3 separate regions of the Homo sapiens genome follow, and regions 1 and 2 are each linked to region 3. Evidence: fine-mapped expression QTL. A gene starts in region 3. Each other region holds a variant in brackets. All regions are shown on one strand. Distances are from middle to middle.

Region 1 (5,637 bases), 190 kb after region 3:
TCTCCAAGCATGTGCAGATCATGTTTTACCCAAGGATTTGAGGAGATTTATGTGCAAATTTTGTGGTTTTATCCTTTCTAGGATTCCCTGTCATTTTCCAGCCTCTGGTTGCCCCAAACTCTGTCTTCTGTTTCCTCAAACCAGTAAGTTCTGCAGCTTTCTGCTTGATTTCCAGCTGTTCCTGCTGGCCATACTGTCTGGAGATTGCCCTCTGACCAAGACAAATTTTACCTGGTATAATTCCCTTCTTTTCTTTCCTTTATTTTCCCAAATATAGTGGCTTTAAAAAAACGCAATCATTTATTACTATTATTATTGTTGTTCTCTCTCGTGGTTCTAGGGGTTGATGAGACTCAATTGATGCTTCTTGCTTGGGTCTCCTATTGTAATCAAATAGGGGCTGGGGGTCATCTTGAAATCCCCCTCAGTCTCATCGGTGTGGTGATTGATGCTAGCTGGCTGTTGGCTGGGACTCCGTTGGACTGTCAGATGGAACACTTACATATAACGTCTACTTGGGCATTCTCAGGATGGCTGGTTTCCAAGAGCAAGCATCCTGAGAGTGACAGCCAGATGAAAGCTGTATTATCTTTTATTTCCTAGCCTCAGAAATCACATAATGTCACTTCTGCCACATCCCACTCATTGAGGCAGTCACAAAGGAGAGCCCATATTCAAAGCATAGGGTATTAGACATCACCTTTTGAGAGGGGAGTGTCAACTAATTTTCAGACAGATTTTAAAACTACCAAACCTTCAAATGTCATGTCCCCTCCAGTTTCTGCCTGCTTTTGCTCATTCTTTGGTACTTTGAAATAGTTGGGTATTTATCTAGAATTTATATTATTATCTAGTAGTCCAGTACAAACTATTCCATCATTACCAGAGGTAGAACTCCCTCCCCTATTTTTTTCTCCATAGCATTCTCACATTTAATATTATTTACTTATTGACTTCGTTTATTTTCTGCATCCTCCCACTAAGCTCCATTAAGTTGGGGTTTTTTTGTTCTGTTTTGTTTTGTTTGTCCCTTTGGTAAACTGCTAGGCATGTAGTAGGTGCTCAGCAAATATTTGTTGAATTAATGATTGGCTGAATCTTTACCTCTCCAAAACAGCCATAGGTAAATAAAAGCCTCTTAATGACAAAAGAGGACCTATACGTTTTACAGCCTTGTTCTTTCAGCACGGTTGTACTGGTAGAGTGGCATACCTAAGGTTCACTCCTCCTTGGCCTACAGAACAGGACTTAGAGATTTTGACAGTTCATTCTTCTTTTTTTTTTCTTTTTTTTTTTTTTATTATACTTTAAGTTCTAGGGTACATGTGCACAATGTGCAGGTTTGTATACATGTGCCATGTTGGTGTGCTGCACCCGTTAACTCGTCATTTACGTTACGTATATCTCCTAGTGCTATCCCTCCCCCCTCCCCCCACCCCACGACAAGCCCTGATGTGTGATGTTCCCCTTCCTATGTCCAAGTGTTCTCATTGTTCAATTCGCACTTATGAATAAGAACACGCGGTGTTTGGTTTTCTGTCCTTGCAATAGTTTGCTCAGAATGATGGTTTCCAGCTTCATCCATGTCCTTACAAAGGACATGAACTCATCCTTTTTTATGGCTGCATAGGATTCCATGGTGTATATGTGCCACATTTTCTTAACCCAGTCTATCATTGATGGACATTTGGGTTGGTTCCAAGTCTTTGCTATTGTGAACAGTGCCGCAATAAACATACATGTGCATGTGTCTTTATAGCAGCATGATTTATAATCCTTTGGGTATATAACCAGTAATGGGATGGCTGGGTCAAATGGTATTTCTAGTTCTAGATCCCTGAGGAATCGCCACACTGTCTTCCACAATGGTTGAACTAGTTTACAGTCCCACCAACAGTGTAAAAGTGTTCTTACTTCTCCACATCCTCTCCAGCACCTGTTGTTTCCTGACTTTTTAATGATCGCCATTCTAACTGGTGTGAGATGGTATCTCATTGTGGTTTTGATTTGCATTTCTCTGATGGCCAGTGATGATGAGCATTTTTTCATGTGTCTGTTGGCTGAATAAATGTCTTCTTTTGAGAAGTGTCTGTTCATGTCCTTTGCCCACTTTTTGATGGGGTTGTTTTTTTTCTTGTAAATTTGTTAGAGTTCTTTGTAGATTCTGGATATTAGCCCTTTGTCAGATGAGTAGATAGCAAAAATTTTCTCCCATTCTGTAGGTTGCCTGTTCACTCTGATGGTAGGTTCTTTTGCTGTGCAGAAGCTCTTGAGTTTAATTAGATCCCATTTGTCAATTTTGGCTTTTGTTGCCATTGCTTTTAGTGTTTTAGACATGAAGTCCTTGCCCATGCCTATGTCCTGAATGGTATTGCCTAGGTTTTCTTCTAGAGTTTTTATGGTTTTAGGTCTAACATTTAAGTCTTTAATCCAACTTGAATTAATTTTTGTATAAGGTGTAAGGAAGGGATCCAGTTTCAGCTTTCTACATATGGCTAGCCAGTTTTCCCAGCACCATTTATTAAATAGGGAATCCTTTCCCCATTGCTTGTTTTTGTCAGGTTTGTCAAAGATCAGATAGTTGTAGATAAGCGGC[A/G]TTATTTCTGAGGGCTCTGTTCTGTTCCATTGGTCTATATCTCTGTTTTGGTACCAGTACCATGCTGTTTTGGTTACTATAACCTTGTAGTATAGTTTGCAGTCATGTAGCTTGATGCCTCCAGCTTTGTTCTTTTGGCTTAGGATTGTCTTGGCAATGCAGGCTCTTTTTTGGTTCCATATGAACTTTAAAGTAGTTTTTTCCAATTCTGTGAAGAAAGTCATTGGTAGCTTGATGGGGATGGCATTGAATCTATAAATTACCTTGGGCAGTATGGCCATTTTCACAATACTGATTCTTCCTATCCATGAGCATGGAATGTTCTTCCATTTGTTTGTGTCCTTTTTTATTTCGTTGAGCAGTGGTTTGTAGTTCTCCTGGAAGAGGTCCTTCACATCCCTTGTAAGTTGGATTCCTAGGTATTTTATTCTCTTAGTAGCAATTTTGAATGGGAGTTCACTCATGATTTGGCTCTCTGTTTGTCTGTTATTGGTGTGTAAGAATGCTTGTGATTTTTGTACATTGATTTTGTATCCTGAGACTTTGCTGAAGCTGCTTATCAGCTTAAGGAGATTTTGGGCTGAGACAATGGGGTTTTCTAAATATACGATCATGTCATCTGCAAACAGGGACAATTTGACTTCTTCTTTTCCTAATTGAATACCCTTTATTTCTTTCTCCTGCCTGATTGTCCTGGCCAGAACTTCCAACACTATGTTGAATAGAAGTGGTGAGAGAGGGCATCCCTGTCTTGTGCCGGTTTTCAAAGGGAATGCTTCCAGTTTTTGCCCATTCAGTATGACATTGGCTGTGGGTTTGTCATAAATAGCTCTTATTATTTTGAGATACGTCCCATCAATACCTAATTTATTGAGAGTTTTTAGCGTGAAGGGCTGTTGAATTTTGTCAAAGGCCTTTTCTGCATCTATTGAGATAATAGTGTGGTTTTTGTCTTTGGTTCTGTTTATATGCTGGATTACATTTATTGATTTGCGTATGTTGAACCAGCCTTGCATCCCAGGGATGAAGCCCACTTGATCGTGGTGGATAAGCTTTTTGATGTGCTGCTGGATTCAGTTTGCCAGTATTTTATTGAGGATTTTTCCATCGATGTTCATCTGGGATATTGGTCTAAAATTTCTCTTTTTTTGTTGTGTCTCTGCCAGACTTTGGTATCAGGATGATGTTGGCCTCATAAAATGAGTTAGGGAGGATTCCCTCTTTTTCTATTGATTGGAATAGTTTCAGAAGGAATGGTACCAGCTCCTCCTTGTACCTCTGGTAGAATTTGGCTGTGAATCCGTCTGGTCCTGGACTTTTTTTGGTTTGTAGGCTATTAATTATTGCCTCAATTTCAGATCCTGTTATTGGTCTATTCAGAGATTCAACTTCTTCCTGGTTTAGTCTTGGGAGGGTGTATGTGTCCAGGAATTTATCCATTTCTTCTAGATTTTCTAGTTTATTTGCGTAGAGGTGTTTATAGTATTCTCTGATGGTAGTTTGTATTTCTGTGGGATCGGTGGTGATATCCCCTTTATCATTTTTTATTGTGTCTATTTGAGTCTTCTCTCTTTTCTTCTTTATTAGTCTTTCTAGCAGTCTATCAATTTTGTTGATCTTTTCAAAAAACCAGCTCCTAGATTCATTGATTTTTTTGAAGGGTTTTTTGTGTCTCTGTCTCTTTCAGTTCTGCTCTGATCTTAGTTATTTCTTGCCTTCTGCTAGCTTTTGAATGTGTTTGCTCTTGCTTCTCTAGTTCTTTTAATTGTGATGTTAGGGTGTCGATTTTAGATCTTTCCTGCTTTCTCTTGTGGGCATTTAGTGCTATAAATTTCCCTCCACACACTGCTTTAAATGTGTCCCAGAGATTCTGGTATGTTTTGTCTTTGTTCTCATTGGTTTCAAAGAACATCTTTATTTCTGCCTTCATTTCATTATGTACCCAGTATTCATTCAGGAGCAGGTTGTTCAATTTCCATGTAGTTGAGCGGTTGAGTGAGTTTCTTAATCCTGAGTTCTAGTTTGATTGCACTGTGGTCTGAGAGACAGTTTGTTATAATTTCTGTTCTTTTACATTTGCTGAGGAGTGCTTTACTTCCAACTATGTGGTCAATTTTGGAATAAATGCGATGTGGTGCTGAGAAGAATGTAAATTCTGTTGATTTGGGGTGGAGAGTTCTGTAGATGTCTATTAGGTCCGCTTGATGCCGAGCTGAGTTCAATTCCTGGATATCCTTGTTAACTTCTGTCTCGTTGATCTGTGTAATGTTGACAGTGGAGTGTTAAAGTCTCCCATTATTATTGTGTGGGTGTCTAAGTCTCTTTGTAAGTCTCTGAGGACTTGCTTTATGAATCTGGGTGCTCCTGTATTGGGTGCATATATATTTAGGATAGTTAGCTCTTCTTGTTGAATTGATCCCTTTACCATTATGTAATGGCCTTCTTTGTCTCTTTTGATCTTTGTTGGTTTAATGTCTGTTTTATCAGAGACTAGGATTGCAACCTCTGCCTTTTTTTGTTTTCCATTTGCTTGGTAGATCTTCCTCCATCCTTTTATTTTGAGCCTATGTGTGTCTCTGCATGTGAGATGGGTCTCCTGAATACAGCAACACTGATGGATCTTGACTCTTTATCCAGTTTGCCAGACTGTGTCTTTTAATTGGAGCATTTAGCCCATTTACATTTAAGGTTAATATTATGTGTGAATTTGATCATGTCATTGTGATGTTAGCTGGTTATTTTGCTCATTAGTTGATGCAGTTTCTTCCTAGCATCGATGGTCTTTACGTTTTGGCATGTTTTTGCAGTGGCTGGTACCGGTTGTATCTTTCCACGTTTAGTGCTTCCTTCAGAAGCTCTTTTAGGTCAGGCCTGGTGGTGACAAAATCTCTCAGGATTTGCTTGTCTGTAAAGCATTTTATTTCTCCTCCACTTATGAAGCTTAGTTTGGCTGGATAGGAAATTCTGGGTTGAGAATTCTTTTCTTTAAGAATGTTGAATATTGGCCCCCACTCTCTTCTGGCTTGTAGAGTTTCTGCCTA
Region 2 (5,637 bases), 44 kb after region 3:
TTTTATGCTCATAAACAGCTTCCCCTTGTTTATTTTTTCCTTTTTTTTTTTTCTTTACAGAGGTAATCAAGTTAACCTTCTCCATGTTGATACCACAGTTGTCACCATTTTCTTCTTTTTTTGAGACAGAGTCTTGCTCTGTCGCCCAGGCTGGAGTGCACTGGCATGATCTCAGCTCACTGCAACCTCCGCCTCCTGGGTTCAAGCTATTCTCCTGCCTCAGTCTCCCGAGTAGCTGGGATTTCAAGCACGTGCCACCATGCCCAACTAATTTTTGTATTTTTAGTAGAGACTGGGTTTCACCATCTTTACTGGCCAGGCTGGTCTCAAACTCCCAACCTCAAGTGATTCGCCCGCCTTAGCTTCCTAAAATGCTCTGGGATTACAGGCATGAGCCACAACACCTGGCTTCTACTTGTTTTTGTTTTTATTTTGTGTTTGACTTTTTAATCTCAATTGAATTTATTTTGCTGTGTATTATGTATCGTAAAAAGATAAGGTTTTCCAAAGACTTCCAACTGTTCCAGTCCTCTTTTTGATTTTTTTCTATAATGTAAACAACTAATTCAGAGTCTGTGAAAATTTGCCTTGAAACCCATTAAAATGAATTTATTGTTTCCAAAAATATTAATTAGACAAGCTCTGAATATGAACAATACCATTGAATAGCTTCTAAAAGAATGAGTATTTCCAGATGTTTTAAATTACCTTTTGTCTTTGAAGCTTTCCTTATTTTCCTTGCGATATCCTATTTTCTCTTTTGTGACAAAAAAATTAGACAAACATGTTGAAAATTGGTTATAATTCCTACCATCACATGCTATTTCAGATAGTGACTAATAAACACATTACATCACTGTAATGTCTTTCCCATGTAGTCCTGACTGTTCTTGATAGAACAGATTCACCATCCAGATCTTATCTATGCATTGATCCCTCAATAAAGGAATAACCCAAGATGAAGTTGGCAGTGGGTATACACACAGCTATGTCACACCAAACTTGAAATACTTTTTAGAAGTTTTAAATGCTGATAAACAAACTCTTAGGACAAATCACTAATGAGCATGGAATTCCCATCTTCTTCAGATTTATTCATCATAAATGGTTTTCACAGATTTTATCATAAAAACATAATCTTCTCTTTCATTCATAGTTTATAATTCACATGATTTATTCACATTAACCAGCTGTGATTGGAGAATCAGGAGGAGCTTTGAGTCCCATATTTTATAAATGCTTCTGAGAAGTACCATAGTTAATGCCCCTTTCAAATAAATAATTTTGGATGGTTGTGGTGGCTCATACTTGTAATCCCAGCACTTTGAGAGGCCAAGGCAGGAGGATCCCATGAGCCCAGGAGGGCAAGGCTGCAGTGAGCCATGATCAGAGCACTGCATTCCAGCCTGGGCGACAGAGCAAGAGCCTGTCTCAAAAAAAAAAAAAAAAAAATTGTTGAAGCAGTTCTATTCATTGTTGTAGTGATGATCTCTTGCTTTCTTTTATGAGTACAGCTGTTGTCTAAAGGGTGTTTTTATCTATTCTGTTGTTGTTTTTTTATTTATTGTTGTTGTTTATTTTTTGTTGTTTTTTGTTTGTTTGTTTTGTTTTGTTTTGAGACAGGGTCTCGCTGTGTCACCCAGGCTGGGGGCTGAAGTGCAATGGCATGATCATGGCTCACTGCAGCCTTGACCTCCCAAGCTCAAGCGATCCTCCAATCTGAGGCCCCCAAGTAGCTGAGACTACAGACGCATGCTATCACACTGAGCTAATGCTTTTTTTTGTTTTTTTTGTAGAGACAGGGTTTCCCCATGTTGCCCAGGCTGATCTTGAACTCCTGGGCTCAAGTAATCAGCCTACCTTCGCCACCTGAAGTGCTGGGATTACAAATGTGACCCACCTCACCCAGGCTGCATCTCTTTCATTGACTGCCCTTTTTACTATGGTGTTTTGACATAGTGTAGAAATTCCTTGACAAGTGAAGTTGCATTATTTGTCTTTGTATTCTCTGAAGGTTTTCATTACTTAAAGAAAACTTCTGGCCAGGCGCTGTGGCCTACGCCTGTAATCCCAGCACTTTGGGAGGCCAAGGCGGGCAGATCATGAGGTCAAGAGATCGAAACCATCCTGGCCAAAATGGTGAAACCCTGTCTCTACTAAAAATACAAAAATTAGCTGGGTGTGGTGGCTCATGCCTGTAATCCCAGCTACTCGGGAGGCTGAGACAGGAGAATGGTGTGAACCCGGGAGGCGGGGGTTGCAGTGGGCTGAGTTCGTGCCATTGCACTCCAGCCTGGGTGACAGAGCTAGACTCCATCTCAAAAACAAAACAAAACAAAAAAAACTTCTTAGATACATACACATCTTCACGTTCTCTCAGACTCATACTTTACTTTCTACTTTCTTTTTTTTTTTTTTTTCTTCTGAGACAGAGTCTTGCTCTGTCGCCCAGGCTGGAGTACAGTGGTGCGATCTTGATTCACTGCAACCTCCGCCTCCCGGATTCAAGCAATTCTGCCTCAGTCTCCTGAGTAGCTGGGACTACAGGCGTGTGCCACCATGTCTGACTAATTTATTTTGTATTGTTAGTGGAGACGGGGTTTCACCACGTTGGCTAGGCTGGTCTCGAACTCCTGACCTCAAGTGATCTGCCAGCCTCGGCCTCCCAGAGTGCTAGGATTATAGTTGTGAGCCACCACAGCCAGCCCAACAGACTCATACTTTCATATTCATCTACCAGCCATCCAGTCTCTTTGCTAATTAACCCATGTCTATAAACTCAGCTTTTTGTCCAGCATTCCCCTGTATCACTATTAAGCCGTTGTTATAGCTTACTATTAAAAACTGCTGGCTGACCAGGTACGGTGTCTCACACCTGTAATCCCAGC[A/C]CTCTGGGAGGCTGAGGTGAGTGGGTCACGAGGTCAGGTGTTTGAGACCAGCCTGGCCAAGATGGTGAAACCCTGTCTCTACTAAAAATACAAAAATTAGCTGGGTGTGGTGGCGGGCACCTGTAATCCCAGCTACTTGGGAGGCTGAGGCAGGAGAATTACTTGAACCTGGGAGGTGGAGGTTGCAGTGAGCCGAGATCACGCCACTGCACTCTAGCCTGGGTGACAGAGCAAGACTCCATCTCAAAATAAATAAAAAATAAAACACTGGGTACAATTTTGCTAATAGTGGCTTATTCACAGATATAAATAAAGTATTAGCATAAATCGTAGCCTTAAAAAAGCCTTTTATATGTCCTTTTATATAGAATTTTACATGGTCTTCAAAAAATAGTATGTAATTGAGAAAAAGATTAGAAGGGAATATGTAGAAATAGAAAGAATTATGTTAGAGTGATAGGATTATGTAATTTTTTCTTAGTATTTTCTCAGTTCATCAAACTTTCTATTATACCCTGATTATACTGATTATATTACCTCCTACGCTGACTCAAAATCTTTTTTTTTTTCCCCTCAGGTGGCGACATGTCTAAGAATGTGAGCCAGTCACAGATGGCAAAATTGAACCAACAAATGGCCAAAATGATGGATCCTAGGGTTCTTCATCACATGGGTAAATACCAAGTTGTTGGCAGTTGCTAATGCAGTTTAATTTATAAGGGTTGAGTTTTAATGATAAGCCTTTTATTGTAATATTATGAAAATATGTTCAAAAGGTGTGTGATTTCAGGGAAATGGTCATCTGAATCCTAAGTTGAATTCAATTGTAATAGGGCTTATTAGCTGAGGTCTTATTCACTCCTCTGCTGCCATCTGTGTGATGTTTGAGCAAGCTATTTAATCATCTTTTGTTTGTTCTGGTGACTTTTTCCCTTATTTTAGAACCTGGATATTTTTACTTATATGACTGAGGATTTTTAACCTGAGTTCTACTTTGACTATATAACCTTTACAAAGTTCCTTAAACTTTCTGAACCTCACTTTCCCCTTCGGTAAAATCACAGATCATATCTCATCAAGAAATTGTGACAATTAAATGAGATAATATATATGAAGACATTCAGTACAATTCTGGGCATATAGTAGATGTTCAATAAATGAATTATTTTCTTTTTGTAAGTCCTATGAAATAATCCCCTATTGATTATTTTTTATGTAACTTAGAGTAAGACCCTTTTGGATTTATAAGAAAAAAATTTTTTGTTTAGATTTATTGACTATGTGACCGGTAGTATCCTAAGATCTTTTTATGTATCACCTCATTTATTCCTCGCAATAACTCCGTAAGATAGGCTATTCATTCTCTTTTATTGATGAAGATAACTGGTGATAATACAAATTTTTAGGTGGTACGTTCTTTAAGGCTGATGACTAAATTGCAATCAGAATTCAGTATTTTTAGAAGTACTTATTAGGCAAAAGTAATAAATGTTTCCAGTTCTGCTTAATAATTCTCTGTTTTTAACTCTACTTCCCTACTTTTGCTCTAGGTGGTATGGCAGGACTTCAGTCAATGATGAGGCAGTTTCAACAGGGTGCTGCTGGCAACATGAAAGGCATGATGGGATTCAATAATATGTAAAGAAAATGCCTTAATATAAACTGACTCAGTTGAATACCTAATTTGCTGAGACCTCAGCGTTTCCCTTCTTTTTGCGAATTGGGGGGAAAGTGTATTTTTCTTGCTTATCATGCACTCTTTCCTTTTCTTCTCGCCCGCTTTTCCCCTCCTTTTCTTTTTCCTTCCTTCTTTCCTCCCTTTAATATAAGGGAGAAATACATGGTTTTTGTGGAAATCATTATATGTTTGCTTTAGATTTTCTTCTGTTTTCACCATCATAACACTTAAGTTAAATCATGATGTAAAATTTTAGTACTTAAAGGTTTTTAATTATCTCGAAGGCCAAGCATTGCATTTGTAAACAGTCCTGGTCAGTAGTTAAATAATGTTTCAATTAAAGTGCTGTAAAATAAACTTCAAAGTGGTTATAAGTTAAGGGGTTGTTAACTTTCTTTATGGTTAAACATTATCAGTTTATCACACTAAAAACTCAATGGAAAAGCCAGTAGATAAATGTCATTTAAAACTATGCCTGGGGCCGAGCACGGTGGCTCACGCCTCTAATCCCAGCACTTTGTGAGGCTGAAGTGTGGATCTCTTCAGCCTGGGTGACAGAAGGAGGATCACCTGAGGTCAGGAGTTCAAGACCAGCCTGGCCAACATGGAAACCCCGTCTCTACTAAAACTACAAAAATTAGCTGGGCGTAGTGATGCATGCCTGTAGTTCCAGCTACTCGGGAGGCTGATGCATGAGAATCTCTTGAACCCGGGAGGCAGAGATTGCAGTGAGCCGAGATCGCGCCTCTGCACTCCAGCCTGGGTGACAGAGTGAGACTCTGTCTCAAAAGAAAAAAAAAAAAGAAGAGGCCAAGCATGGTGGCTCATGCCCAGGCTGGTCTGGAACTCCTGAGCTCAAGTGATCCTCCTGCCTTGGTCTCCCAAAGTGCTGGGATTACAGGCCTGAGCCAGTGCACCCAGCCAATCATTGATTTTTTTTTTTTCTTTTTTGAGACAGGGTCTTGCTTTGTTGCCCAGGCTGGAGTGCAGTGGCACGATCTCGGCTCACTGCAACCTCTGCATCCCAGGTTCAAGTGATTCTCCTGCCTTAGCCTCCTGAGTAGCTGGGAT
Region 3 (5,637 bases):
ATGTTAATTATAATATCTAAACCTACTGACTCTAACATCACAAAGAATTTTAAGAGGTCGAGGTTAAAAATCTAAAATTGTAAGTCATCAGCTAACAATGACATTTCAAGTCATGAGCTTGGATAAAAATAACCATGGAAATCACCATTCAGCAAAATACAGGCATAGTGGCCAGGCGTGGTGGCTCACGCCTGCAATCCCAGCACTCTGGGAGGCCCAGGCAGGAAGATCACCTGAGGTCAGCAGTTTGGGACCAGCCTGGGAAACATGGTGAAACTCCGTCTCTACTACAAATACAAAAATGAGCCGGGCGTGGTGGCGGACGCCTGTAATCCCAGCCACTCAAAATCGCTCGAATCAGGGAGGTGGAGGTTGCAGTGAGCTGGATGGCGCCACTGCAGCCCCGCCTGGGCAACAAGAGTGAAACTCTGTCTCAAAAAATAAATACACACACATACACACACACACACACACACACACACACACACACACACACACTCTCGCATACAGGCATAGGATAGTTTGCTATAGTTAACAAACATAAGAATATCCTATTTTCTTGAGCTTTCATCAGGCTTTACTTTGCCAGAATACATCTATCCCATTTTTCAGTAACTAGATCTAGCTACCACATTTCCTCAGTTTTAACGTGTGTGTTTAAAGAGACAGGGTCTTGCGTCGCTCAGGCTGGAGTGAAGCAGCGGGATCAAAGCTCACTGCAGCCTTTTTCTGTCTATAAATCTTCAACACTTGGCTGCGCTGCAATCTCTCTGAGCCTGCCCGATTCGTGAATCATTCTTTGCTCAAAATGTTAAATTTAACTTGGCTAAGGTTTTTCGTTTAACACTTCCTACTAACGCTACAGCCTAAAACCTCTCCTGCAAAATGCTTTTTCAGGTGGCAACGTACCAATTCTAACAAGTTTGTGGGAGTAATGGGGAGGAGGGCTAACCCTCTATTTTCTTTCAGAAAAAGGGTTAGGCACAAGGAGCTCTAAAGGCTTGTCCGAAGTCTGCTGAAAACTCACAAACCACTCAGAACCAGGTTTCCCACACCCAATTAATTCCAAGTGGTACTGTATCCGATTACCCCCATTTTCCAAGAGATAGTTTATTTTTTCCCCTCTTTTCCCCTCCCCACTACACTTTCCACTTAGCCCTTTTTGAACTGCAAAATAACCTCTCAACTCCCCTCACCAGACCATTCTCTACAGAGCAAATTCATCTACGAGATCCAAGACGCAACTCCCACCGCCAGGCGGTCGCCTCAGAAGGGTAAGCAGAAAGCATGCCCACTTGGCCACTTTTACAACTTATTTCTGCTCAGAAATGCACCAACTCAACTACCCGGTAGATAAGGCACCAGCTAGCAGAGACCTCTTGCTCATTTCCTCTTGTACCTTATAAAATGCCCGCTTTTTTGCTCCAAAGACGAAGCGGGCTGGCTTCAGAAATAAAATCCCTCTTCTTGTATACTAGGGCTCGCTCTTGTTAATTGGTGTCTACGTGTGGCGAGCAACTAACTCTCTTTTCCGTTAGAGCACTCAAAGCCCTGGTCAATCTACCCCCCAAGACAGCAGAGACCAGCACAACGATCCCAAGGAAGGCTGTTGGCTTCACCCCGCTTAAGTCCTCAAAGTCAGCGCCTGCAGCATATCCTTGCCCCCACCACCTGCCTCTAGCTCTGGTCACTTACACTTACGGTTAGTTCGCATCCACTGTAACAGCGCCTGGCGGTCGGCAGGAGCCACAGTGCGAAGCGGCCGCAGCATCACTGCCTGCCTCGCAGTGGGAAATTTTACCTTGCTGGAGCAAGCCGCGCAGGCACTGGCTGGCATTGCGCATGCGCAAGCAGAGACCGCCCCACCCTCCGCGGAACAAGCCTCCGGTCTGCAAAGCCCTAAGCCCCGCCCCTCTACGGAGGTCTCACGTGCGCCTGGGGATCCCTGCCTTCAGTCACACCTCTATCTCTCATCTTTCCGCTCTTAGCTGGGAGTGCTCCGCCTAGTCACTTTTCTTAAGGTGGCTCGTCGAGGCCTGACTTCTTCCCCGAAATCACGTCCCTAGACAGCCTCCTATTTTACCACTAACTTTACTCCTGCAGTTATTCAGCGGTAGGAAACTGAAACCAAAAACCAGTGTAAGCAAGTAAACATCTAAACTGTTTCAGGAGCCGCGTAGAAGGAACGCGGCGGTGTGCCCCGGAAGCGGAAGTAGATTCTCCTATAGAAAGGCTGGACTACGCGGAGTGGTGACGTTTCCTCATTGGGCGGAAGGTTCGCTGGCACTCCGTTGGTCTTCCAGCTGGTGGGAGTTGACGACGTGGTGCTGGGCGTTGGGACCCTACTTTATCTAGTTCGGGAAGTTGGGTTGTGGGGTCATACCTGTCTGTCTGCTCCCAGCTTTCTTGGGTTTCTTCCGACGGCGTGGGGCCTCGCTAAGGAATTCCCGGCCCCTCAGGGCCACGGCTTTAGCGGTGTCTTTTGCGGTAAGTGTCTGCTTTTTCCCGCCCCAGACTACGGAGGGGGAGCGAGGGGCAGCCCCAGCGCTGCTCAGGAGGCGAGAGACTCCGGGGGAAGTCGGCCTCCGTGGCCACCGGCCATCGTTACCGAGACTGAGTTTCTGTGGCTCTTTATCTCGTCTTCCATGAGAAGTTTTATTAAAGATGCGCTGTGCCCCTTTTGAGTTGTCTTCCGATTTACCTGAGCCAAATAAGATGTAGGCAGTTGCAGGCCTGAGTCTTCGTTTTGCTTTCCTGAGCAAGAATTTAGATGAAGCTACTTCCCCGAAAATCCTTTTACTTGTACGAGACTTTTATTTTTCCTATGTGTTTGTAGTGCTTAACACAATGTCCTGCGTGTAGTAGACGTTCAATAAACGAATATGGAATATCAGTTGAATGCCAATGATGATTTAAGATAGACTGATAGCTCTCTCTGTACCATTTGACGCTGCTGACCATCCATTTCTTGAAACTTTCCCCTGCTGCCTTTCTTCATGCTATCCTCACCTGATTCTTTCACATGCTTAATTTAACAAAATATATACTTGTTCTTGGCTACAAGGATACAGAAATGAATAACACTAACTCTGCCATTGAGAAGCTAACGCACATAAATACACATTATATCAAGATGGGTAATGAGAAACACTAGTTGCATATAAAGAGCTGTAGAAAGCTGTGGGAGAGCTAAAGTGCTCCTTAGGTGCTTTGTGACCCTGAGCCAGTTTCTATTCCAATCTAGCCTCAATTTCCTCATCTACTTAATAGGCTTGTTTTGAGGAAGAAAGGAGATTAGGTAAGAGGTTTGGTTTGGTTTAGTGCCTAGAATACAGCAATCGTGGTGCCAAAGGGGAGGGAAATATTTCCCTCAAATCGCTTTTTCTCAGTTTTTTGATATGGCCAACTGGTATTTTCTACCTTAATATAGAGTACTATGCAAAAGCATCTTCAAGTCTTCCTTCCAGATTACTCCTCTGTCCCCATCTATTTGGAAATTCTGGACCTGCCACAGGATTACAGTAAGATAACCATAAATGTAGCTTTTTAAAAATTGATTTTCTCCTATGTGCCATGGAGAAAGGGAAAGGGAATTAGTAAAAGCTCCTATCTCTTTGGTTATTTTCAGTCTTGGTTAACGCCGTCCTTTTAGTTGGCCCTCAGTCATTGCTATAACCCAAATGGTCTTCCACAGGCTCTCCTCGAGGCTTCTCGCTTGCTTCCATGGCATTGTCCCTATATGCCAACCATGTCCAAACCTTATTCTTTTCATTTCCAAACCTTGTTCTTTTCCAAACCTTATTTGCTCTGTCGCCCAGACTGGAGTACCGAGGCACCATCTCGGCTCACTGCAACCTCCGCCTCCCAGGTTCAAGCAATTCTCCTGCCTCAGCCTTCCGAGTAGCTGGGATTACAGGTGCCTGCCACCACGCCCAGCTAATTTTTGTGTTTTTAGTAGAGATGGGGTTCCACCATGTTGGCCAGGTTGGTCTTGAACTCCTGACCTGAAGTGATCCGCCTGCTTCGGCCTCCCAAAGTGCTGGGATTACAGGTGTGAGCCACCATGCCCTGCCTAAACCTTATTCTTTAGCCTCCATCTCATGAGTTGATAGTTCTGTACTTTCCCCTAAAACTTGCAAACTCATTAGGTCCAAAACCAAATGCACTGTCTTCACCTTCCTTTTTTTTTTTTTTTTCACTATGACATATGTCATGCATACGAAAGTGTATAAAAGCAGTGATTGTCAGTGCGTTTTTGAGTTTTGACCTCTGGTTGAATTTTGTGATACAAGTAGGTTAAATTTTTAAAAGGATTATAAGGGCTGTGAGCAATGGCTCACGCCTGTAATCCCAATACTTTGGGAGGCTGAGGCTGGCAGATTGCTTTAGCTCAAGAGTTCGAGACCAGCTTGGGTAACATGGCGAAACTCCCTGTCTCAACAAAAGAGACAAAAATTAGCCAGGCTTAGTGGCGCCGCCTGTAGTCCCAGCTAGTTGGAGGGATAATGAAATGAACATCTATGTACACATCCTTCATAAAAAGTGAAACATTAAAAATAATACATTAAGTCCCTTTGACCTCTTCTCTATTAACTCCTCTGACTTTCAAACCACCTTCCCTTTTTGCCTTCCATTCATTGGTTAATGGCATCACTAGCCATCTGGTTATAAAAACTAGAGATATTGGAATCATTTTTGCCTCTTTTTTCCTTCACTTGCCATAACCATTTGGTCATTAGATTCTGCTTCATGAATTAGCCCTTAACCCTAGTTTCTTTTTCTCTAGTTCAAGGCCACATCTTGTCTCAACTAGCCTTATGGAGTATGGGTAGTGCATGTAGTGTCCTGGCTCTTCAGTTTTTTCCCTCCAATGTATTTGTTACACTGTATCTAAAGATGTTTCTAAGGTATAGAACAGATTTCTCATTCTGTTGTTTTCTTTGGGACATGTTATTAAATACTTAATATAGTGATTATGAACCCTTGCTGCACATCAATATAGCTAGTGAAAGTTTTCAAAACATAAATGTCTTGTTTTGCACTCCAGATTAAGAATTTAGATGAAGCTACTCCCCCTAAAACTTTTTTACCTTACTATCTCTGGAGAGTCTGATTGAGCATTTAATTTTTACTGATAGGCATTATCTAAATGTCATTGAAATAACGCATTGCTTGAGCATATGCCTCTTATCCCTCCTTTTCCTTTTTTATTTTTCACTTTTCCTTTTTCTTTTCAATGTTAAGGCCAACTTTCCAAGGAATTCTTTTGATTTTCGTTTTAATTTTCTTCTTGGTAGCATTTTATGTAAAGATTCTTTTTATGGTTGACCTCATAGCCAGAAAGTATCGTAAAGAAATGATTCCCAGTGTTCCTGAGTTATTACCTCTTGTTGCTAATTGACTTTTTTTTTGGTATACCTTTTTTGCTGCAAAAGTACGAATTGGTGCTGTGATATTATTTTACATAAAATGAGTTTTAAAATTTGAAAAACAATTACTTTAATGAAGAGAAAGTTGCTTGATACTTCTTGATATAATTGAATATAATCTTTGGTGCTAAGTTAAGACAGAGGTGGTATGATGCATAATTTATCTTTTGAAGGGAGTCTTGTGTTAAACTGTTATATTTGATTAGGA

Direction of the effects. Alleles are on the strand shown, and positions count from the first base shown. SD is a standard deviation of normalised expression in the study named.
For the expression in CD4 T cells of the gene that starts at base 2,264 in region 3, A is the low allele of the variant in region 1 and G is the other (moderate effect, 0.64 SD a copy in Kasela 2017).
In carriers of allele C in region 2, the expression in testis of the gene that starts at base 2,264 in region 3 tends to be higher than with A alone (small effect, 0.18 SD a copy in GTEx).

What was found. PIP is the estimated chance that this variant, and not a neighbour inherited with it, causes the effect.
Region 1: its variant is the best candidate, but not a certain one, in a credible set for the expression of SRP54 in CD4 T cells (Kasela 2017, PIP 0.61).
Region 2: its variant is the best candidate, but not a certain one, in a credible set for the expression of SRP54 in testis (GTEx, PIP 0.61).

What each region holds. Positions count from the first base shown.
Region 1 is chr14:35,173,466-35,179,102 of GRCh38, forward strand. The region is part of intron 4 of PRORP (protein only RNase P catalytic subunit); the gene reads left to right. All of the region lies in intron 4 of PRORP-PSMA6 (PRORP-PSMA6 readthrough), which reads left to right. Among named protein-coding and RNA genes, the nearest start is that of PRORP, 54 kb to the left of the region's middle. The variant A/G (reference allele first, on the strand shown) is at 2,597.
Region 2 is chr14:35,024,623-35,030,259 of GRCh38, forward strand. SRP54 (signal recognition particle 54) reads left to right here. Exons shown (of 16, transcript NM_003136.4): 15 at 3,466-3,561; 16 at 4,439-4,945. The coding sequence ends at 4,530. Among named protein-coding and RNA genes, the nearest start is that of FAM177A1, 19 kb to the right of the region's middle. The variant A/C (reference allele first, on the strand shown) is at 2,889.
Region 3 is chr14:34,980,729-34,986,365 of GRCh38, forward strand. SRP54 (signal recognition particle 54) reads left to right here and starts at 2,264. Exons shown (of 16, transcript NM_003136.4): 1 at 2,264-2,487. SRP54-AS1 (SRP54 antisense RNA 1) reads right to left here and starts at 1,838. Exons shown (of 5, transcript NR_151701.1): 1 at 1,696-1,838. RefSeq lists a silencer at 235-529 and enhancers at 1,415-1,464, 1,583-2,284, 1,675-1,764, 1,945-2,444, 2,475-2,734.